Homo sapiens: one gene and its partners. The protein of the gene in region 1 purifies or fractionates together with the protein of each later gene. This does not show direct contact. Each region holds a gene or a part of one and is shown in the gene's direction. Other genes may lie near its edges. The genes, in order: DYM, PLCD1, CCKBR, MRS2, HTR1E, PNPT1 and DSG4.

Region 1 (3,500 bases):
TAAATGTATTAAGGTATTATGTTACATTTTGAGCAAATGAAATGACATGGTACAAGAAAACAATAGTTTACAATACTTTCAACTCAAGTAGCAGAGTGACCATGTGTATTTATCTCTTCTCCCTCTGAGACCCCATTACCTGATGGTAGAGCAATTTTCTACACATACTGTTGAGCAACTTAGGACAGTCATTTCATCCTTCTTTAGGCTCCTTATGGCCTCTTTCAAGATCAGGAAACGGTTTTGGAGAAATAGAATATGAATTTCTGTTTTACTGCAATCTTTTTCTTCATTCTTATCCTCAGTGTATTTCCAAATTAGAAAAGGACATTCTTCTTGACTCACACTTTGAAAATACGATTTTACCATCTTCTAACATTTTAACAGCTTTTCTGTGACTGGCCACCTTGATAGCCATTTGGCAGGTTCATGTCCAAGGAGTCTATCGCCTTTCATTTCTGTAAGGTCCGAATCTCACTAAGTTCTGCAGGTTTTGAGAAAACTGAAAGGTGGCAAACATCACAGGGCAGGAAACTACTGCCTCATAGCAATGCTGTGTGCAAGGCATGCAGAACATTTAGCAGGCAAGAGCTCTTCATTTTCTTTGGTCAGAAGTTTGTAGACTAAATGGAATTTGCTGCAGTTTACATATGCCCTGTCCCCAAATAGGCAGATAGATGAGCAGACTCTAGTTTGTGCTTGAGCAAGATATCAGCAATCTTTTGTTTTCTGTTTATGTGGAAACATTTTTGTTTTCCTCTACTGATACTGGACAAATATGGTTGAGTGTATTTAAATTCAAGTTTCATCCTTGAGAGCATACTGAATTAAAAATATCACAATTAAGTTTGTTTCGTAAGTGTTCTAAAGTTTCTTTCCAACAGATGACATAGTTGGCTGGTTGCAGGGAAGGGAAATCATATGTTCTACTTTTCTTTGAAAGTTATTGTATTAGGGTTCTCTGGAGGGACAGGACAAATAGCATAGATGTATATATGAAGGGGAGTTTATTAAGGAGTAGTGACTCACATGATCACAACGTGAAGTGCCACAATAGGCCCTGTGCAAGCTGAGGAGCAAGGAAGCCAGTTTGAGTCCCAAAACCTCAAAAGTAGGGCTGACAGTGCAGCCTTCAGTCTGTGTCTGAAGGCCCAAGAGTCCCTGGCAAACCACTGGTGTAAGTCCAAGGGTCCAAAAACAGAAGAATCTGGAGTCCAGTGTTTGAGGGCAAGAAGCATCCAGCATGGGAGAAAGATGAAGGCCAGGAGACTCAGCAAGTCTGTTCCTTCCATGTTCTTCTGCCTGCTTTATTCTATTTGTCCTGGCAGCTGATTAGATGGTGCCCACCCAGATTGAGGGTGGGTATGCCTCTCCCAGTCCACTGACTCAAACGTTGATCTCCTTTGGCAACACCCTCACAGACACATCCAGGAACAGTACTTTGCATCTTTCAATCCGATCAAGTTGACACTCGATATTAACCATCACAGTATCTCAGGTATTATTCTACATTTCATAGTTAAAATGTGGATAACTTTATTATTCTTGAATAAAGCAAGCATATCAATTTTAGCAGTTTTATTTGCTGTCATCTTTTATTTTCCCTTCTGTCCCAGAAGACCATTTCATGGAAGGTCACTTATTGTTTTGTCCAGTTTTGAGTTAGTATGAATTACTACCTCATTAACTTTGGGGGATAGGGGGAAGGGGATAGGTACTGAAATTCTCTTTGATGCTGTTAAAAAAATGTTAAATTTCAGATACTGTACCAAGTTATAATTTATTAAGAATAGTTTCCTATAAAGGGTGAATAAAATGACAATGAATATGTGTGTGTGTATATATACATATATATATGTGTATATATGTTTATATATATATATTTTTTTCTTCTAAAGCCCAAGGTAGGTATAGATGTGTGTGTGTGTGTGTGTGTGTGTGTGTGTGTGTGTCTTTTCCCCTTTCCCGCTTTGTAACTGTGAGAGCCCCAGGTGTTTAGGGGCTGCCCCACGAGTATTTCCCTTGGATAAAAATGTTTACCTTGTCTTCTCAGGGGAAACAACTCTCCAGTTTCACTGTAGATCAGCCATTCCTTTCTTGGATTCTGTGCTTTCTACTCTGAAGTAATTCCTGTTGAACTTTTGAGATTCTGCTCTAAAAAAGATAGGCAGCCAATTTTTTTTTTTTTGAGACAGTTTCACTTTTGTTGCCCTGGTTGGAGTGCAATGGAACGATCTCGGCTCACTGCAACCTCCGCCTCCTGGGTTCAGGTGATTCTCCTACCTCAGCCTCCCAAGTATCTGGGATTAGAGGCATGTGCCACCATGCCCGGTTACTTTTGTATTTTTAGTAGAGACAGGGGTTTCACCATGTTGGTCAGGCTGGTCTTGAACTCCTGACCTCATGTGATCTGCCCACCTCGGCCTCCCAAAGTGCTGGGATTACAGGTGTGAGCCACTGGGCCTGGCCTAGGCAGCCAAATTTTATTGAAGCTACCTTTCATTAAGCTACCTTGGAAAAGGGAGCTGAGGCACAGGAAGCAAACTGAACCATCCTAATATTTTTAGAGATTGAGCATTTGTCATTTCACCAAAATTTATTTCAATAATAAAAGTCCCTTTGACTCCACATTTGATTAGTGGTACTGGAAAAACAGGTACTGCTTCCTCTTCCCCCTAAACTTTCACAGGCAAAATACATTTTCTGTCTCTTTCTCAGTCACTAAGTAGGAAAGGAACATAAGACCTTCTAAGTTGTTTCTGAATATAGCTAGATTTTTTGCTGGTCTTGATCTTCTTTTGGGATTGACCATTATGTTCTCTGACTACCATATAACTGTATGTTATAGTATAGACTTAATCAAGGATTTTGAGGAAGTTAACTAAGTTGGTGTGTGAGAGATACTGCAGAATTTTGGTATTTTGAATGTTATATACTTTATTTTTTTCTAGGAGAGAATATTTGTGAGAATTATGTAGAATCTAATTAATTTAACTATTCCCAAACCACCCCATCATCTTTCACAGTTATTGTTTATCATTTAGCATGATTTTCAGAGCTTGTGCTTTATACATTGAGTTTGAGTTTCAAGAGATGGATATGTTTAATTTACTATTTTGATCATTAGCCTTCTATATTTTTTAAATATATACTGATGTCTGAAGTTAGAGCTTTTAATTAGAATTGTGTCTTGCGTGTGTTAGTTTTGTTAATGCTGGCCTTCATGTTTGTGATGCCAGTAGTACCAAAAACATAGTTCTGCTTGGTAAGTTGCAAACCTTCCCATGAAGTGCTAGCAGCAAGAATGGAGTGAATGTTTATCCTCACAGGGCCCAAGAGCATAGCCCACTCAATACCTGCAAACCCAGCACTTTGTTTTGTATTATGTCCTACAAAATGTGCATATTTTTACTTTATTTAACGTGATATTGTCAGAGGCATGGGAACCAGAACAACTCCATCTTGAATAGGAGCTGGGTAAATTAAGTTGAAACCTACCA
Region 2 (2,824 bases), on another chromosome or scaffold:
CCACCTAGCAACTGAAGGGGAAGATCCTGCTGAAGGGGAAGAAGCTCGGGGGGCTCCTGCCCCCTGGAGGGGAGGGTGGCCCTGAGGCCACTGTGGTGTCAGACGAAGACGAGGCTGCTGAGATGGAGGATGAGGCAGTGAGGAGCCGTGTGCAGCACAAGCCCAAGGTTTGAGGGGGAGCTGTGGGGTGGGGCAGCCCGGGCCTTCCCCATCCCCTCACCCGTGGGAGGTCTGCCTTGTCTCAGTTCTCTGTGGCTGCCACTCAGACCCTCTGCCCCGCTCTCTCTGTCTGTCTCCCTCTGTCTCTCTGCGCCTGGGTTTCTGGCTTTCTCAGTGCCTACCCTACCCCAACCACTGAATCTAACCCGGGCCTCCCCGTGTTCCCCAGGAGGACAAGCTCAGGCTAGCACAGGAGCTCTCTGACATGGTCATTTACTGCAAGAGTGTCCACTTTGGGGGCTTCTCCAGTCCTGGCACCCCTGGACAGGCCTTCTACGAGATGGCGTCCTTCTCTGAGAACCGTGCCCTTCGACTGCTCCAAGAATCAGGTGAGGCCTGGCTCCCCACCACTCCCCTGCTCTGTTACAGAGAGAATTGGCAGGGCAGGGCTTGGGCCTCACCAGGAGGCCTCCACTGCTGACCGAACCACACCTCCCCTCAGGAAACGGCTTTGTCCGCCACAACGTGGGGCACCTGAGCAGAATCTACCCGGCTGGATGGAGAACAGACTCCTCCAACTACAGCCCCGTGGAGATGTGGAATGGGGGCTGCCAGATCGGTATGGGCTGGCTGGGGCTGGAGGAGGCCTGGAGGAGGGTTTCAGTCCCAAGGCCGGGGGCCTGGAGCCTCGAAGGCCATGCAGTGGAGCTCTGAGGACCCAAGCAGGGTCAAATGCAGGGGCTTGTGGAGCTGGTAATATCAGTCTGGAAATATCTGCCCACCAGCATGTCACAGTGTCTGAAACCTCATTAGCACACTAGTCCTTTGAATTCTCACACCAGGAATGGAAGGTGTGGTTAGCATGGTGGGTCACTGAGGGTGGCAGGAGGGCAGCAGGCATTGGAGTGATGCTGGGCCCTGCTAACTCACCATGTGACCCTAGGCCTTAGTGTACCCTGAGCAGGCTGTGCTCTAGGGCCCCAGGGCCAGCCCACAGCCTGTGACTGCTCTGTCCTGCCTGTAGTGGCCCTGAATTTCCAGACACCTGGGCCAGAGATGGACGTGTACCAGGGCCGCTTCCAGGACAACGGGGCCTGTGGGTACGTGCTGAAGCCCGCCTTCCTGCGAGACCCCAACGGCACCTTTAACCCCCGCGCCCTGGCTCAGGGGCCCTGGTGGGCACGGAAGCGGCTCAACATCAGGGTACGCTGGACCTAGGAGGGACAGGTGCCCACGGACCTCCCTTCCCCGCTACCACTCCTGAACTGTCCATTGTCCTCTGCCTTTCCTCAGGTCATTTCGGGGCAGCAGCTGCCAAAAGTCAACAAGAATAAGAATTCAATTGTGGACCCCAAAGTGACAGTGGAGATCCATGGCGTGAGCCGGGACGTGGCCAGCCGCCAGACTGCTGTCATCACCAACAATGGTAGGTGCTGGGCCTGGGCTGGGCTACTAGGGCTGGTGTCCATGCTGCTGATATGGTGCCTGTCCCCCTAGGTTTCAACCCATGGTGGGACACGGAGTTTGCGTTTGAGGTAGTTGTGCCTGACCTTGCCCTCATCCGCTTCTTGGTGGAAGATTATGATGCCTCCTCCAAGAATGACTTCATTGGCCAGAGTACCATCCCCTTGAACAGCCTCAAGCAAGGTGAGTGTCAAGAGAAGGGGATGGCCAAGGTGGTGGGAAGCAGGGCCTGGCGTCTCTTGGGCTGGGGCTGGCTGTCCCTTGACGCATCCACCCCCCCTCCGCCGCCGAATGACCAGAACTCTCTCTGTGTTCCCTCCTGCCTGTCCACCCACCAGGATACCGCCATGTCCACCTCATGTCTAAGAACGGGGACCAGCATCCATCAGCCACCCTCTTTGTGAAGATCTCCCTCCAGGACTAGGCTGGAGGAAGCCAGTGGGGTCCCCCCTGAGTGGGCTGGGCCCTCTGTCCACATGTGGGGACAGGGCTGGTGTGGCTGCTCCCAGCCTCTTGCTCAGAGCTAGGCCCCCAAATTGCCTTCAGCCCTAACATAGTGTCTGCTGCTGCCTCCCTGGGGACCAGGAGCTAGCCCAGTCCCTGGAGCTGTCCTTCATTCCGTTAGGAATAACACTGCAGCCCTCTCCACCCTCCGGCCAGCGAGTGGTCAAGGATTTTTATAAAAATCACGATAAGATTAAGCCTTGTGGTCTCTTTACCTGGATGCCAGAAAAATCCCCTGTGAAGCGTGTGTGTGTGTGTGTGTGTGTGTGTGTGTGTGTGTGTGTGTGTGTGTCCCCATGTCCTAGAGTGCTGGAGCCCTAGCACCTCACTCTCCACCTTCCTTGCACATAGTTGAGTAGGGCAGGGGTATCTGGAGAGACCAACGAGAAATAAACCCCTCTGTGGGGTGGCACTGAGAGCTCACACCCGCCAGCCCTGGAGGCCCCTTCCCCTGAGAGGTGGACCTGCTGAGTGGCCCGGGCTTGAAAGCACGCATACCACAGCTCGTATGGGCTGCCTGCTTTTACTGACACGCAGAGGATGACCAAAAGCCTCTGAGGGGAGTGGAAGCAGGGCCTCCCCAGCATTGTAGGTATGTTGGGGTCCAGGGGATAGGGGCAGTCGAGAGGGCTTGGGTTCAGAAGAAGCCCAGCTGCTTTTTCTCCTGCCGCTGCCTCCACGTGGCCATGCTGTAGAA
Region 3 (3,500 bases), on another chromosome or scaffold:
AATTAGCCGGGCGTGGTGGTGCATGCCTGTAATTCTAGCTACTCAGGAGGCTGAGGCAGGAGAATCGCTTGAACCCAGGAGGCAAAGGTTGCGGTGAGCCAAGATCATGCCATTGCACTCCAGCCTGGGCAACAAGAGCAAAACTCCATCTCAAAAACAAAAACAAAAACAAACAAACAAACAAAAAACATGGAGGTAGTATGATGAATAACAGAGTACTGCAGGAACAAACAGTAGGAGGCAAAGCACATTAGGGATCAGGGACTTGGCTTCTATTCTGATTCAGCCCCTTATCAGGTGTGTGGTCTTGAGCAAAGAATGTTACTGCTGAGTTCGGTTTGGAAGTTTTTATAAATAGCATTTATTTGATGCCTACAATTTCTAAATAAATTGGTTTTTGTTATGAGAAAATACAGTCATGCATTAACTAATGATGGGGATACCTTCTGAGAAATGCATCATTAGGTGATTTCATTGTGTAAACATCATAGAGTGTTTGTCACACAAACCTAGAAGGTATAGCCTACTACATACCTAGGCTATACGGTATAGCCTACTGCTCCCAGGCTGCAAACCTGTACAGTATATTACTGTGCTGAATATTGTAGGGAAGAGTAACACAATGTTATGTATTTGTGTATCTAAACATAGAAAAGGTACAGTGAAAATACAGCATAAAAGATAAACCATCATACACCTGTATAGGGCACGTACCGTTAATGGAACTTGCAGGAGTAGATGTTGCTCTGGCTAAGTCAGTGATGAGTGGTGAGTGAAAGTAAAGGCCTAGGACATTACTGTACACTACTGTAGACTTTATAAACACTGGATACTTAGGCTACACTAAATGTATTTAATAATAAATTAAACTTAGCATACTGTAACTTTTTACTTTATAAACTTTTTGACTCTTTTGTAATAACACAGTGTAAAACAAAAAACACATTGTATGGCTATACAAAAATATTTTCTTTTTTTATACTCTTATCCTATAAGCATTTTTCTGTTTTTAACTTTAGAAAAAAAAAAAACCTTTCTGTTAAAACCAAGACACAAACACACACATTGGGCTACACAGGGTCAGGATAAATATTGCCATCTTCCACCTCTACATCTTGTCCCACTGGAAGGTCATCAGGGCAACACCACACATGGAGCTGTCATCTCCTATAATAACGGTGCTTTATTCTGGAATACATCTTAAAGGACCTGCCTGAGTCTGTTTTATAGTTAACTTTTTTAAAAAAATAAGTAAGAGTATACTCTAAAATAATGATTGAAAGTATAATGTAGTAAATACATCAACCAGTCACACAGTCATTTATTATCACTATCAAGTATTATGTACATCATTGTATGTGCTAGGCTTTTATATGACTGACAGCACAGTAGGTTTGTTTATACCAGTATCCCCACAAACACATACGTAATGCATTATGCTGCAATGTTACAATAACATTACTAGGTGATAGAAACTTTTCAGCTCCATTATAATCTTTTGTTGTTGTTATTTTGGGTTTTGTTTGAGACAGAGTCTCACTCTGTTGTGCAGGCTGGAGTGCAGTGGCACTATCATAGCTCATTGCAGCCTTGAACTCCTGGGTTCAAGCAATCTTTCTGCCTCAAACTCCTGAGTAGCTATGACTATAGGCACGTATCACCACACCCAGCTAATTTTTTATGTTTTGTAGAGACGGGACTTTGCTATGTTGCTCAGGCTGATCTCAAGCTCCTGGCCTCAGGTGATCCTCCCGCCTTGGCCTCTCAAAGTGCTGGGATTACAAAGATAAGCCACTGCACTCAGCTGTTCATTACAATCTTATGAGACCACCATCGTATATGAAATTGGTCATTTACCAAAACATCGTTATTCAGTGCATGGCTGTAGTTTTCAATTTGGGAGCTAAAATGAGAATCAGTCAAAGTATGGGGCTCTGGAAGAGGGGGCTGCAGCTTTGAGGCTTTCCTTCTCTGCAATCTAGGAGGCTCTGTCCCCTGCCCTCTCTACCTTCCAGCTCTAATCCCTCTCATGCTGAGGCCATAGGTGTGAGTAATTCAGTCCTGTTCAATCCAATTCGATTTTATCTAAATCTGCTTGGCTGTGATGTGGTGGTCCAAAGATTAATCCATCTTTTAATAGACAATGACACAAAAGAATGGGGTCAGCCTCCCAGCCCCTCTGCCTCACACAGGTGTCCCTCCTATGAGCTCCAACAGCACCTTATACATCCTTCAGCCTCACTCCTTATCACATCTGTTTATGTATCTGAGTTTACTTCCCCACTGTGAGCTCTCAAATGGCAGGGATCTTGTCATGTTCATCTCTTTGTCCCCAGTGCCTAGCACAAAGGGAGTCCTCTGTAAATGTTTATAGAGTGAGAATGAATGTTTGGAGAGAATTAAAATACAAGGCAGAAGTAAAATAGGCTGTAATAGTTGTGTAAGAAACAGGCATGGGTCAGAGAAAGAGGAGAGTAGAAGGGCCTTACAGAAGGGCCTTACAGAAGAAGTAGCAGTCAATTTGAGTCTTGACCAACAAGGGATGAATAGGAATTCACCAGATACAGAAAATAAGCTTGTGATGAGGGGTAGAAGTTGTGAGGAGGGTTGGTAAAAGAGTATTCCGGTCTGAGAAACCAGCTTGAGCAGGGAGAGAGTCACAAGTGCAAATGATGCATTCAAGAAATTGAGTCATCCAGTGGCTTGCTTAAATGCCTGCTGTACAGGGAGGGGGTGGGAGAGAAAGAAGTCCCTTCTGGGAGGATCTTGATGATATTCTGAGGGGTTGCAGACAGTAGAGAGTAAGTGAAGTATTTTTTTTTTTTTTTTTTTTGCTTTTGTTTTTAGAGAATAAAGACATGATCTGATGTGATTCAAAAGGTAGTGGGTTGTCAACAGTGTAGAATACTCTAGCGGGGTCAAATAGAGTAGGCTAAGAAAGGACCTTTGAATTTAGCAGTTAAAGATTAGTGTACTTGGGAAGAAGTATGCACTGATAGGGCACAGAATATTGTATTGTAATGGAATGAAGAGTAAATGAGAAGACACAAATATCCTCTTAAGAAGTTTGTCTGCAGAAAGAAGGAAAGATTTGGAACGAACCTTGAGAAGAGACAGGCTTTCTTAAGGAAGGGCAGAGTTGGGCCAATTTAACCAAACCTCAAGGGGTTAGAAGGCTAAAGGATTCAAGTTCACCATTTACTGAGCAGTTCATCGGTGGGGAATGTAGGCATCTGGCTGGGTAGTGAGGGTTGGGGATAAGACGGAAGGAGGGGGATTTGACTGAATGAAGGCTGACCCCCTACTGCCACCTCTCCCTTTTCTTACCCAGAATTGGAGCTGGCCATTAGAATCACTCTTTACGCAGTGATCTTCCTGATGAGCGTTGGAGGAAATATGCTCATCATCGTGGTCCTGGGACTGAGCCGCCGCCTGAGGACTGTCACCAATGCCTTCCTCCTCTCACTGGCAGTCAGCGACCTCCTGCTGGCTGTGGCTTG
Region 4 (3,500 bases), on another chromosome or scaffold:
CCCTCTCTGTTTATTTCTTTTATAGAAAGGAAGAAAACTGAATTATACCAAGAGTTAGGTCTTCAAGCCAGAGATTTGAGATTTCAGCATGTAATGAGTATCACAGTCAGAAACAATAGGATTATCATGAGAATGGAGGTAAAATATTTTATTTTCATCTATGTTTCTCCAATACAATCTTATAAAAGTTACCTTCTAACTATCTTGATTAGTATCTAGGTTAAAAGTAATTTTGGAATAGAAATAGCTACCTGAAACATAGGATGTTTTATAGCTTAATATGCTATTATGAGTAGAACTCATTTTATATGGATTATATGCACATGTTCAATAGGCATAACACTGCTGTGTTTTAAGTTGGAAAAGCTCTGACTGTGGTGTTCATTCTCACTGTTGGGATTTACTCTCTAGTTCTGGAAACTATAAGACAATCCTGATTTATAATAGATATATATCCAATTGTGTACAGTTACATGTAATTATAGTATAACCTGAGCTACCAAAAATGTATTCTGGCTTTCTAAATAGCACAGGAATAGACATTAAATTTTATAGCCTTAATTTTTTTTTTGAGATGGAGTTTTGCTCTTGTTGCCCAGGCTGGCACGATCTTGGCTCACTGCAACCTCCACCTCCCAGGTTCAAGCAATTCTCCTGCCTCAGCCTTCTGAGTAGCTGGGATTACAGGCATAAGCCACCAAACCCAGCTAATTTTGTATTTTTAGTAGACATGGGGTTTCTCCATGTTGGTCAGGCTGCTCTGAAACTCCCGACCTCAGGTGATCCACCTGCCTCTGCCTCCCAAAGTGCTGGGATTACAGGCATGAGCCACCGTGCCTGGCCAGTTTAAATTTTTTTAATGGAAAACTTTCTGAAATATATTGTATTTTCCCTTACCTATTCAGAGCATGCCAAATAATAATTTGACTTTCTTTAGTGATTCAGAGTTAATGTGGGTTTCAGTTATTTTGGTGGGCTAATGTTTAGGTTCAAAAATAGATGAATGGTATTGGCCCTGTAGTGGGTATGAGACTTTCTTCAAAGAGTCTTTGATGGCAGATTTTTGTTCATTTTTCTAGAACTAATCAAAATAATAAAAAATGGGCCAGTATTGGTAGCATGTGCCTTTAGTCCCAGCTACTCAGGAGGCTGAAGTGGGAGGGTCACCAGAGACCAGGAGTTTGTGACCAGCCTAAGCAACATAGCAAGATCCCATCTCTAAAAATAAATAAGTAAATAAAAAATACTTTATCAAAAATGAAGCAGTCTTCTCCCATGTGATTTTCTTCAGAAATATTCTCTACTCTTGGAATCAGTAGCTAGCATTCTTCAAAACAGTGTCTCTTTCATGGAGAGACAGACAGGTATGTGAAAAAGCAAATTCAGCAGAATGATAATTGTGTAATCTAACTGGTGGGTATATGGTGTTCACTGCAATCTTTCAACTTTTCTGTATAAAAATTTTCATGAGGCTAGGTTGTGGTGGCTCACATCTGTAATCCCAGCACTTTGGGAGGCCGAGAGGGGTGGATCACCTGAGGTCAGGAGTTCGAGACCAGCCTGACCAACATGGTGAAACCCCGTCTCTACTAAAAAATACAAAAATTAGCCAGGCATGGTGGCGGGTGCCTGTAATTCCAGCTACTCAGGAGGCTGAGGTAGGAGAATAGCTTGAACCCTGAAGGTGGAGGTTGCAGTGAGCCGAGATTGCCCCACTGCACTCCAGCCTGGGTGACAGAGCAAGACTTCCATCTCAAAAAAAAAAAAGAAAAAAAAATTCATGATAGAATGTTGGAAAAATGTAAAAATAGAAAATTATCTCTAATTTCTATATCACTGATAAAGTGGCTACCTTTATCTACTTTTAACATACAAGATAACCAGTCTTTTTAGAAAAAATTCTAATTTCATATTGTTCTAAATTAGAGTAGTAAGGCTATGTTTCATCTTAATTTCAGATTTTGTTTATATGCTTTAGTGGTGTTTTAAAAAGGAAACTTCCATTTGTGCCAAACTAATTATGATTAAACTAAATCTTTTCTAAAAGTCTGCTCAATACCTGACTTTTAGGAAGACCTTATCTTGTTCCCTTTATTTATTTATTTATTTTTTCCAAAAAAGAAAGACGGAGTCTCGCTCTGTCGCCAGGCTGGAGTGCAGTGGCACAATCTCAGCTCACTGCAAACTCCGCCTCCCAGGTTCAAGCGATTCTCCTGCCTCAGCCTCTGAAGTAGCTGGGACTACAGGTGTGGGCCACCACGCCTAACTGATTTTTGTATTTTTAGTAGAGACGGGGTTTCACCATGTTGGCCAGGATGGTCTCGATCTCTTGACCTCATGATCCACCTTCCTCAGCCTCCAAAAGTGCTGGGATTACAGGCATGAGCCACCATGCCCGGCTTTCTGGGGGTATTTTTTGGTGTTTTTTTTTTTGTTTTTGTTTTTTTTTCATGATTACCCCAGAAGTCTTAGTAAATATATAATTTATGTGAATAATTCCAGTTTTATTGAGAGTGAGTTAGCAGTATCAAGACATATATTTTTTAAGTTTCTTTTCTTTTGAAAAAAAAAACCTTGATTTTTTTGAAAAACAAAAATGAACACTGATTTGGTTTAGTCTTAATCCACAATTAGTAAAGTATTAAACCAAATTTTATGAATGTTCTTTTTTCCTACAGCTCTACAATTTGCATATATATATGTATGTATACATATATATGTATATACATGCATGTGTGTATATACACTCACATATTTATATGTTTTGGTTTTTTTTTTTTTAACAGTATTTGAAAGCTGTGATAACTCCAGAGTGTCTTCTGATATTAGATTATCGTAATTTAAACTTAGAGCAATGGCTGTTCCGGGAACTCCCTTCACAGTTGTCTGGAGAGGGTCAACTCGTTACATACCCTTTACCTTTTGAGTTTAGAGCTATAGAAGCACTCCTGCAATATTGGGTAAGTCTGTTTTTATTTAGCTTCTTGGGTTTATTCTGATTTTGAAATGTCATTGAGTGGGAAGACAAGTTGGGGTATTGTTTCAATGGCATGTCCCCTGACCACATCCTGCCCCGAAACAAGTCGTCTCTAAGGATCCTACATGGAGATATCACTTAATTCTTAAATGTTATGACCCAGTCAAATAGAACTAAAGACTCTATGTATATTATAAAAATGCTTGACATGTGATAATTATTTTATTAAATCATTTCATCAAGTCATTTTTTGATTTGTTTGTACAATCCTTTGTTTGAGCCAGGTAAATGATGCATCTTTTTGAGACCTAGATTGACATAGGAATCACGCACAGTTCTTCCAGTGACTCCTCCTTTAAATTAAGAGTCCTTAGATGTCTGAGACTCCTGTCAGGCTCTAAACAAGGGTGGTTCTCTGCTTCCCTGACCCCACAAATCTTTCATTATCTTTTCTTCCTCCTGTTAAGTCAGGATGGTACTGTTCAGGAACTGGCTACATGCAAGAGTTGGTGCTGGGAGCATA
Region 5 (3,500 bases), on another chromosome or scaffold:
AGCCTCAGGTCCCAGCTGGCTGCTGGCTGGAGACGTTCTTTTGCTACCACATGGACCTCTCTATAGGGCTACTAACAAAACAGAGTGCTTCATGCAGATGTTGCAGCTTGCTGTCCTTGGAGCAAGGGCTAAGATTGAAAGATAGCAAAATAGAAGCCAAGGTCTTTTTGTAACCTGATATCAGAAGTGATATCCCATGGCTTCTGCTGTGTTCCTCATTAGAGACAAGTCACTAGTTTCAGCCTAATTCAAGGGGAAGGGATTACACAGTGGGAGGAATACCTACAGGAACCAAATCATTGAGAGCCACCTGAGATACTGCCTGCCACAATATAAGACATCAGAAGCTGTTTGATAAAGACTCAATTCAGTATCACCTCGTGGTTTTATCTCATAGTAATGTTCTCAGACTGAAATTAGATAATCTGTCAAAGAATTTGTAAAATATAAAGCTCTATACAATATCAAGATTTTATTAGTTTTATTAATGCTGAGAATCCAGTTCCACTTTATAGATAGTGATATAAGAACAGCAAATCAATGATTAAGAGATGTGAATTTTACACCTTGCTGTGTGTGTGACCTTGGAAAAGCCATTTATTTGTTTCATACCTTAGTTCTCTCATGAAAGTGATGATAATAACAGACTTACCAGGATAAAATAGATAATAGACAGCCATGCAGCACATTGACAATATTTTGGTCACCCACAAACCACATATATGACAGTGGTCCCACAAATTATAATGGAGCTGAAAAATTCCTACAGCCTAGTGACATCATCGCTATTGCAATGTTGTTGTAGCACAATGTATCGCTCATGTGCTTGTGATGAGGCTGGTGTAAGCAAACCTGTGCTGCCAGTTGTATAAAAGTATAGCACATACAATTATGTATAGTATATAATACTTGATAATAAACAACTGTTACTGGTTTATACATTTACTGTACTATACTTTTTATCATTATTTTGGGGTGTGTTCCTACTTAATTAAAAAAAAAAAGTGAAAAGAAGTTTAACTGTAAAACAGCCTCAGGCAGGTCCTTCAGAAGGTATCCCAGAAAACAGCATTGTTATTACAGGAGATGACAGCTCCATGCATGTTATTGCCCCGAAGGACCTTCCAACGGACAGGATGTGTAAATAGATACAGTGATACTGATAATCCTGAGCCTGTGTAGGCTAAGGCTAATGTGTCTGTATCTTAGTTTTGTTTGTTTGTTTGTTTGTTTGTTTGAGACAGAGTCTCAGTCGCCCAGGCTGGAGTGCAGCAGCACAATCTCACCTCATTGCAACCTCCGCCTCCCAGGTTCAAGCAATTCTCCCACCTCAGCTTCCTAGTAGCTGGGATTACAGGCACTCACCACCATGCCCAGCTAATTTTTTGAATTTTTAGTAGAGACGGGATTTCACCATATTGGCCATGCTGGTCTTGAACCCCCGACCTCAAATGATTCGCCCGCCTCAGCCTCCCAAAGTGCTGGGATTACAGGCGTGAGTATCTTAGTTTTTAACAAAAAAGTGTGAAAAGGAAAGAAAAAATTTAAAGTTTTAAAAATAGAAAAAAGTTTATAAAATAATGTTATAAATAATGAGAATATTTTTGTATAGCTATACAATGTGTTTTAAGCTAAGTGCTATTACAAAAAGAGTCAAAAAGGTTTTTTTAATTTAAAAGTTTGGGGGTTTTTTGTTTTGTTTTTGTTTTTGTTTTTGTTTTTTTGAGATGACGTTTCTTTCTTGCCTCCCAGACTGGAGTGCAGTGGCGTGGTGATCCCAGTTCACTGCAACGTCCGCCTCCCCAGTTTCAAGCAATTCTCCTGCCTCAGCCTCCCAAGTAACTGGGATTACAGGCATGTGCCACCATGCCCAGCTAAATTTTGTATTTTTAGTAGAGATGGGGATTCACTATGTTGGCCAGGCTGGTCTCAATCTCCTGACCTCAGGTGGTTTACCTGCCTCGGCCTCCCAAAGTGCTGGTATTACAGGCATGAGCCACCACACCCGGCCTAATTAAAAAGTTTATAAAGTAAAAAAGTTATAGTAAGATAAGGTTAACTTATTATTGGAGAGAGAAAAAATGGTTTTTACAAATTAGGTATAGCTTAAGTGTACAGTGTTTTTAAAGTCTACAGTAGTGTACAGTAATGTACTAGGCCTTCATATTCGCTCAACACTGACTCACTGACTCACCCAGAGCAGCTTCTAATCCTGCAAACTCCATTCATGATAAGTTCCCTACACAAGTATCCCATTTTTTATCTTTATACCATATTTTCACTGTACCCTTTCTACGTTTAGATACACAAATACTATTGTGTTACATTTGCCTACAGTATTCAATACAGTAACATGCTGTCTGGCTTTGTAGCCTAGAAGCAATAGGCTATGCCACATAGCCTAGGTGTGCAGTAGGCTACACCATCTAGGTTTGTGGAAGTACACATCTTGATGTTCACACAATGATGAAATGGCCTAACAATGCATTTCTCAGAATGTATGATGCATGGCTATATATAAAATTATGCTGAAATCTAAAAAAATGAGATGATGGTCATAATGACAATGATGAAGATGACTATATGTTTCAGCTTCTACTCCATGGTCCTTTGAGGACAACTGAAGTAACTAGATATGATTTTTGTCAGTTGTGTTTTAAGTGTATGTATCAAATCCAGCTACCCCAAGTTTTACAATAACTTTATATGGTTTAATCTTATCTTGCTGAACACATTAGATATGCTGCCCTGAAAAGTGGCTTGCAAACAGAATTTTTAGAAACTGAACCATAATTAAAATGCACAGAGGCCGGGCACGGTGGCTCACACCTGTAATCCCAGTACTTTGGGAAGCCAAGACAGGCGGATCACCTGAGGTCAGGAGTTTGAGACCAGCCTGACCAACATGAAGAAACCCTGTCTCTACTAAAAATACAAAATTAGCCATGCGTGGTGGCACATGGCTGTAATCCCAGCTACTCAGGAAGCTGAGGCAGGAGAATCGCTTGAACCCAGGAGGCGGAGGTTGTGGTGAGCCGAGATCGCGCCATTGCACTCCAGCCTGGGCAACAAGAGCGAAACTCTGTCTCAAAAAAAAAATGCACAGAGAAGGTTTCCATGTATCTAGTGGAATTGTACAATGCTTATGTGATCTTGTGATATCATTAATATTTTGTAATATAAATAATTATCCTCATTATTTTAATTTTCTGGCATTGTAGCAACACCTGTATAAATATTTATAGTTACTTAAGAACTCACAAAACAACCTTTTGAAGTAGGCAAATAAAACCAACTCTTGGTTATCTCAAAGAGTTCTTTTTGTTTGATTCTTGTGTTATCTACATTTCTTCTCTCACTGTAAATTGGCATAAATTTGGCAGATACAAAACAAGTAAAGTTCAAACTCCTCCACTCAACCACTTTAAGGGATTTTTTTTCCTGCTTATAAGTATATCACATGTTCATTGTAGAAAATTTGGAAATGCAGAAAAGTATAA
Region 6 (3,500 bases), on another chromosome or scaffold:
CCAGAAACCATGATTACGTAAACTAAAAATCCTACACAGAAAACTAATGACCATAAGCAAAGTCAACGAACTAGGAAATAAAATATTTTATTTATATGTTATTAAACATAATATTTTATCTTTACATTTTAATAAAGCTCTGTCCATATTGAAAGAAAATCAGTAATAAAAAGACTGCCAACCAAGTAGAAAAGTGTTGAAGGCCATGAACAGGGAGTTCTCAAAATAAGACATATAAATAGGTTTATGAACATGAAATAGTTTTCAACCTCAGTCATAAAAAACAAGTCAGATTTAAAATAACCATTTTTTACACTTTAAATTGAGAAAAATCAAAAGATTTGACAAGAATTAATAAGAATATAGAGTAGCATATACCTTCTTACACCACTGGTAAAAGTTTAAAATGCTATGTCTTTAGAAGGCAGTTTGACAGTCTAACAAACGTAAATGCACATACCTTTTGACTCAGCAATCGCACTTCTGTGTGTGACTTGTAAAACATACAGGGAGTACTAAAACTATTCAAAGGAATAAAGTAGAGCTTTGTGTGGTGGTATGTGTCAATATCCAAGACATGTTATTAAGTGAAAAAGGCAAGGTGCAGAACAGTAAATGCATACAGTCTGCCGCCACGAGTAAAGAAAACAAAAGATTATATTTACATTTATACTTGTGCACAGAAATTTTCTAGGAGGATACACTAATGTTAGCTGCCATGGGGAGGTAAACTGAGGAGTTCAGGCTGGAAGAATTTACCAAATAGATGCTTACTTTCCAACAAAAAGAAAATAAGACACCTGAAGCAAAAAAGCAAACCAACGGATAATTTAAAAGTTATAAAGTTTGCTATTGTTAGAGAAGTTTTTGCTGGATATAGTACTTGTTTACATTGTTTTAGGGAACTTTATTATATGTTCAAAAACAAACGAAGTAGTCAGATGACCTCTTAAGACTTCCAACTCAGCTTCGGTGATTGTCAATTTAGGCAACAATATCCACTTACATTAAAAGTAAATGTCTGCTGGGCGCGGTGGCTCACGCTTGTAATCCCAGCGCTTTGGGAGGCTGAGGCTGGCAGATCACCTGAGGTCAGGAGTTCAAGACCAACAGGGCCAACATGGTTGAAACCCCATCTCCACTAAAAATACAAGCAAATTAGCTAGGCGTGTTGGCGGGTGCCTATAATCCCAGCTATAGGGGAGGCTGAGGTGGGAGGATTGCTTGAACCCAGGAAGCAGAGGCTACAGTGAGCCAAGATCATGCCACTGCACTCCAGTCTGGGCAACAGACCGAGACTCCCTCTCAAAAAAAAAAAAAAATTGATAGATAAATATTTGTTTTAGGCTCATGTACACATTACCCACAGTTGTTCTTTTTCCCAATTATAGGGGTTCCAATTTCATCTGCTGTTGCAGGCGTAGCAATAGGATTGGTCACCAAAACCGATCCTGAGAAGGGTGAAATAGAAGATTATCGTTTGCTGACAGATATTTTGGCAAGTATATTCTCGGTTTCAAATATTTAATAATGAAGACTAAAAATAAATAAATAAAAATTAAAAGATAAAAACAAATAATGGTGAAGACTATATGTACTTTGCACCTAGCGTATGCTTAGAAGAATGCTAGTATTTGAAGAACAGGTACTTGTTCTTCCCTTCCTCCTCTGCATGTTCACCTTGTATCTTATAGGATATGAATTTAAAATAGATATTATATTAATAGTAATAGGCCAGGCACAGTGACTCATGCCTGTAATCCCAGCACTTTGGGAAGTCAGGAGTTCCAGACCAGTCTGGCTAATGTGGCAAAACTCCATCTCTACTAAAAATACAAAAATTAGCCTGGGCATGGTGGCACACACCTGTAATCCCATCTACTTGGCAGGCTGAGGCAGAATTGCTTGAACCCGGGAGGCAGAGGTTGCAGTGAGCCAAGATCGTGCCACTGCACTCCATCCTGGGCAACAGAGCAAGACTGTGTCTCAAAATAAGTAAAATAAAATAAAATAAAATGATTACTTTAAAAAAATAGTAATACTTACCCTTAAGTATTGCAGTAATACTTACACAGTGTAAGTATTCATAATGACTCACTTTAGGATGAGCATAAATTCATTCTCAGGCATTTATGAGGGAAAGGAATGATCTAAAAATAAAATGATGTTTCTGGTGAAAATAATTGTAGCTTAAAAAGTCACAAATTGGAAGTGGTAGTTAATGTAGAAAACATTGCTTTGTGTTTGGACTTAGGATATGGTTTACTTCTAAAGCTGTTTTTTGAAATGTTTCTACAGTGAATATGTTGACTTTTGTTTTTGTTTAAAACTATGTCATAACTTTTTAAATTCCTGAAGGGAATTGAAGATTACAATGGTGACATGGACTTCAAAATAGCTGGCACTAATAAAGGAATAACTGCATTACAGGTATTTTTAAAACCCATTTTGTTTCATTTTTGTAACATTTAAATAATGCCATGAGTCAATATTTATATAATTGTTTGACTTTTCCATATTAGGCTGATATTAAATTACCTGGAATACCAATAAAAATTGTGATGGAGGCTATTCAACAAGCTTCAGGTGAGCTAGTGTGCTTGATTCTCCCTTCATTCTTTTCCACTTTGCTAATGGGAACTATAGTTCTCATTAGGCTTATTATAAAATATTGCTTTAAAAAGTGGAATTTCATATAACTTAGATCAAGAAGTACTGGCCAGGTGTGGTGGCTCATGTCTGTAATCCCAGCACTTTGAGAGGCCGAGGCAGGCAGATCACTTCAGGTCAGGAGTTCGAGACCAGCCTGGCCAACATGGTGAAACCCTGTCTCTACTAAAAGTACAAAAATTAGCCGGGCATGGTGGTGCATACCTGTAATCCCAGCTACTCAGGAGGCTGAGACAAGAGAATCGCTTGAGCCCAGGAGGCAGAGGTTACAGTGAGCCGAGATCATGCCATTGCGCGCCAGCCTGGGTGACAGAGGGAAAATGTCTCAAAAAAAAAGAAGTACTAAGTAGCCAGGCATGGCATGGTGGCTCATCCTAGCACTTTGGGAGGCCAAGGCAGGAAGATTGCTTGAGCCCCAGGAGTTCAAGACCAGCCTGGGCAACGTAGTGAGATCCCATATCTATTTTAAAAAAAGAAGAAGCACAACTAAGTTTTTGGGACACATGAATACACGCCAAAGTGGGTTACCAGTGAAATTTCAATTTTTACAAATTAAACAACTCTATTTAAGATGGGATTTTTGGAGAAGAGAATATGAGTGAATTTTCAAGGTAATAGGGATGTGGAAAGCTTCAATTATTAAGCTACAGGGTTTAGATTGTATACCGTGAAAACTAAGAGTACAGTATTTCAGATCATATTTGTTTTATGTAGTTATAATTTTTGTGTTTTTCTCTTCTAGTGGCAAAAAAGGAGATATTACAGATCATGAACAAAACTATTTCAAAACCTCGAGCATCTAGAAAAGAAAATGGACCTGTTGTAGGTAA
Region 7 (3,500 bases), about 18 Mb from region 1:
TCGAGAAGGAGAGGACAACTCGAAGAGGAACCCCATTGCCAAAGTAAGTGATGAAGCAATCTGATGACAAATGCTTTTGCAGAGCAGGGAAGCTTTCAAATATCTCCAAGATTTGCAGGCTTCACTGCTCCACAGTTATTTAAGAAGACAGAATGTGGTCATTTGCTCCAGTTGCTGAGCCACTGATTTGAATATCATGTGCAGGGAGGCTGACGTGGGGCAGGCAGTCAATGGCAAGTGATTCTAGAAGAAAGGGCTGGATCTCCAGCACAACTGGGCTTTGTTCATCCATTTGTGTACTGCTCATTATTGCCTGTCAATGTCATAGGAAACGTATTCACATAGTGACAGTCTGAAGCCTGGCCCTCCAGAAAGTCAAGCCAAGTTTACTGCACTAGATGAATTAACTCCAGGAAAGTAAGGATAGTATCAAAAGTTCCCACCAGATCTCTACATCCAGAAAATAAGAGAGTCTTATAAGACTTTCACAAATAATGCCTACTGAAAAGGAAGGAGAGTTAAAGAATGTGTAATAAATTGATCCAGGAAGGATGGGATCCACATTAATAGCTTCATTCACTCTTTCTGGACATCTTGATCCTGAACAGTAAAGTGATCTGCAGAATTCCCTCCTTCCAGCTTTATATTAAAAACATAGTAAGCATCAGCAGTGGTGTTACAGATACAACCTCAGCTCAAGAAAACAGATGTATTCTCTCTCAGATGTTTTCAAATTGGAGGGACGCTTTTAAATTATTATTTCCATTCAACTCAGTAATTGCTTTATGTTATTCCACTTATATTGCATATTCTTTTCTTTTTCTCTGCATTTTGGGAGGTTCTTGAGTTTTCTTCTATGTAAAAAGGGCCTTTGGATTAGAGTTAAGCTAACCAAAGTTCTATTTCCAGCAGTCTTTATTTGACTGTGAATGTGTGGGTAAAAAATCTTACTATTTTACTGAATGCTCTTATCGTTAGTATATAGGTGAGATTTCAAAATTGTTTCAGTTTAAATTTATCAGCAATAGGTAATAAAGCTACTAAAGCAAAATCTGTGTGGCAGAATATTTGCCATAAAATCTATTTGGCAGAAAAGTGATGCAGTATGTTTACATTTATAAAATTATTACAAATATCTCTAACCATTATAGTTTTCTGATATTCTCAACTTATCTACCATTTTGACTAAATCTCAGACTCCAGCTTAGGTAGGATACTTATTAATATGACACAAGTTATTTTTAAAAAATAGTAAATGTTGTAATTTCTTTTGTGAAGCTATTTCTGCGTATGCTAAAAAATCAGAGAATTGAACAATGTGTTATTAACAACAAACCTAGCACCAAGTGTGTATGTTATACACATTACCTCATGTAATTCCCACAACAAATCTGTGTGATATTATCCCCACTGTAAGCTGATCTGGGCAAAGTTAAGTAAATTTTCCAGGGTCACACAGGACTAAGTCATGGTGTCAGGTTTCAATCCAAAGCCCATTTGGTAAAGAAACCCACTCCCTTCTTATTCCACTACACTCTTAAGCATTATCTGCTCTAAACTGGATCACAATCCTAGCTATTTTTCTTATAGATTCGATCAGACTGCGAATCGAACCAGAAGATAACATACCGGATTTCTGGAGTAGGGATTGATCGACCACCATATGGGGTATTCACCATTAATCCTCGCACTGGGGAAATTAACATCACTTCAGTGGTAGACAGAGAAATAACTCCACTTTTCTTGGTAAGTCATAGCCATATGTTTTGATTTGTTCATATTAGTTTTCTTCCCTTTTTCAAAAAATATTATCTTAAGATAATGGATTACTTTTGATAAAACATGGCAGACTGAACCCAAATAGAAGACTTGAAGGAATGGAAAGAGTGTGAAAATAAAAGTTTATAGTTCAGGATTCTCTGGTATGTTGCATGTACATGTAGTCAAGTGTCCTGATCATATTTAAATTATTTGACTGTACTACAGTCTGAATTCACTGGAAAAAATTGTTTCTTTGCCTATTTTCTGATATATTTTCAAGCATGTTACTAAAATTCCTTTGGTGGAAAAAGATGGCTTTTTTCCAATTTTCCACAGATCTATTGCCGGGCTCTGAATTCACGGGGTGAAGATTTAGAAAGGCCTCTTGAGCTTAGAGTCAAAGTTATGGACATAAATGATAACGCTCCAGTCTTTTCGCAAAGTGTATACACAGCCAGCATTGAAGAAAATAGTGATGCCAGTAAGTAGAATGACATTCCTTCTCTACGTCACAGCATATCTACTTCTCTTGGTCAAAAGCTTTAGAGGACTGACATACAGGAAATGTAAAGGACAGAAAAAGCCACACTTGTATTTTGAATAAACCCCACATATTTTAATTTATAACTGAGCTAGAAAAAGAAATCATGTCTAAAATGATAAAATAAAATATCTTCTTACTTGCGGAAGGTCCCTACAGGGATTTAGCAGGTGCTTAGCACCTTGCTTAAAGATTGCTACTGGGCTCATGAAGAACTAAATCCAAGCGAGCAAACTGAGGAATAAACCAGGAATGTTTAAGAAGGCTCTGTTCTGGTCTCTTACTCAAAATGTTTGGCTGACCCACACCAGGTAGAGCGTGATGGTGGAAGCACACGCAATTGTACCCATCAGATCAATCACTAAGGGTAATCATTGATCTTCACAGACTACATAGCAAACTACATTCTATTCTCTCATTTTCTTTCATTTCTTTCCATTCCACTTAATTCCATTTCCAGTTCTAATACCCTCTGTCTTTCCTTTATATTAATTCTCCTGAACTTCTTTCCTTCCTACTCTTATGCTTTTCTTATATGGCTACTTTCCTATCTCTCCTCTCCCTTTGCCTTCTGACCTTGATTTTACATACAGCACATGAATATCAGTTTGTTCCCCAAACCCCTGTTGTCCCTTTCCCTTTCAAATCTATGTCTGCCCATATACCTCTAAACAAATTTGGGGGGAAATAATAGGAAAAATAAATTTCAGGAAAAAAGGCAGATAAACACAAAATTTTTTTTTGAACTAGGATAGTCCTCCCATAGAGAGGCAAAGAGATTTTGCCTAGGAGAGCCAACACAAAGAGAGACTCCGAAGTCCATCTTTGCTTCCTCATCAACACACCTCAAAACAACACTGGTGAAGGAAGAGAAGGTGAAACCCACAACCAAGTCTCCCTGCCTAGGAAGCAAAAGAACATCAGGGACCTGACAATTCTGAAAAGTCTGTCCTGTAGATTGACATCCTTGGGGATTTGCCTAAGATACCTGTTCTTTCTACCTATGAGTAATTAGGAACTTCTTATATTGCTATGGACAAGTCTTCTTTTCAATAATTATAAATTTGTGACTGTTTGGTAAAATGCTATCTTCCAATGCAACCAAGAGTAATTATCTGCTTTCTGGAAAAGTGGCAATTAAGAATATAGGTGTTCAATACATAATTATAATGTTGCATTTAATTAAACTATAATTTTC

What was found.
Region 2: the proteins of DYM (region 1) and PLCD1 purify together in Homo sapiens (affinity purification with mass spectrometry; one large-scale study listed by BioGRID and IntAct). This does not show direct contact.
Region 3: the proteins of DYM (region 1) and CCKBR purify together in Homo sapiens (co-immunoprecipitation; one large-scale study listed by IntAct). This does not show direct contact.
Region 4: the proteins of DYM (region 1) and MRS2 purify together in Homo sapiens (affinity purification with mass spectrometry; one large-scale study listed by BioGRID and IntAct). This does not show direct contact.
Region 5: the proteins of DYM (region 1) and HTR1E purify together in Homo sapiens (co-immunoprecipitation; one large-scale study listed by IntAct). This does not show direct contact.
Region 6: the proteins of DYM (region 1) and PNPT1 fractionate together in Homo sapiens (co-fractionation; one large-scale study listed by BioGRID). This does not show direct contact.
Region 7: the proteins of DYM (region 1) and DSG4 purify together in Homo sapiens (affinity purification with mass spectrometry; one large-scale study listed by BioGRID and IntAct). This does not show direct contact.

What each region holds. Positions count from the first base shown.
Region 1 is NC_000018.10:49,373,646-49,377,145, reverse strand, and holds part of DYM (dymeclin), read left to right. Parts: intron 1-3,500. UniProt on the Homo sapiens protein: Necessary for correct organization of Golgi apparatus. Involved in bone development.
Region 2 is NC_000003.12:38,006,996-38,009,819, reverse strand, and holds the end of PLCD1 (1-phosphatidylinositol 4,5-bisphosphate phosphodiesterase delta-1), read left to right. Parts: intron 1-8; coding exon 9-167; intron 168-388; coding exon 389-548; intron 549-661; coding exon 662-778; intron 779-1,183; coding exon 1,184-1,362; intron 1,363-1,452; coding exon 1,453-1,585; intron 1,586-1,656; coding exon 1,657-1,806; intron 1,807-1,961; coding exon 1,962-2,047; 3' UTR 2,048-2,324; downstream 2,325-2,824. Other genes in the region: VILL (villin-like protein), read right to left, coding at 2,765-2,824. UniProt on the Homo sapiens protein: The production of the second messenger molecules diacylglycerol (DAG) and inositol 1,4,5-trisphosphate (IP3) is mediated by activated phosphatidylinositol-specific phospholipase C enzymes. Essential for trophoblast and placental development.
Region 3 is NC_000011.10:6,266,338-6,269,837, forward strand, and holds part of CCKBR (gastrin/cholecystokinin type B receptor), read left to right. Parts: intron 1-3,331; coding exon 3,332-3,500. UniProt on the Homo sapiens protein: Receptor for gastrin and cholecystokinin. The CCK-B receptors occur throughout the central nervous system where they modulate anxiety, analgesia, arousal, and neuroleptic activity.
Region 4 is NC_000006.12:24,409,436-24,412,935, forward strand, and holds part of MRS2 (magnesium transporter MRS2 homolog, mitochondrial isoform b precursor), read left to right. Parts: intron 1-25; coding exon 26-138; intron 139-1,291; coding exon of another isoform or gene 1,292-1,364; intron 1,365-2,786; coding exon 2,787-2,960; intron 2,961-3,500. UniProt on the Homo sapiens protein: Magnesium transporter that mediates the influx of magnesium into the mitochondrial matrix and regulates magnesium metabolism. Also permeable to calcium, sodium and potassium ions.
Region 5 is NC_000006.12:86,944,028-86,947,527, forward strand, and holds part of HTR1E (5-hydroxytryptamine receptor 1E), read left to right. Parts: intron 1-3,500. UniProt on the Homo sapiens protein: G-protein coupled receptor for 5-hydroxytryptamine (serotonin). Also functions as a receptor for various alkaloids and psychoactive substances.
Region 6 is NC_000002.12:55,645,345-55,648,844, reverse strand, and holds part of PNPT1 (polyribonucleotide nucleotidyltransferase 1, mitochondrial precursor), read left to right. Parts: intron 1-1,391; coding exon 1,392-1,498; exon of another isoform or gene 1,499-1,572; intron 1,573-2,358; coding exon 2,359-2,430; intron 2,431-2,522; coding exon 2,523-2,586; intron 2,587-3,412; coding exon 3,413-3,496; intron 3,497-3,500. UniProt on the Homo sapiens protein: RNA-binding protein implicated in numerous RNA metabolic processes. Catalyzes the phosphorolysis of single-stranded polyribonucleotides processively in the 3'-to-5' direction. Mitochondrial intermembrane factor with RNA-processing exoribonulease activity.
Region 7 is NC_000018.10:31,386,777-31,390,276, forward strand, and holds part of DSG4 (desmoglein-4 isoform 2 preproprotein), read left to right. Parts: coding exon 1-43; intron 44-1,590; coding exon 1,591-1,746; intron 1,747-2,097; coding exon 2,098-2,242; intron 2,243-3,500.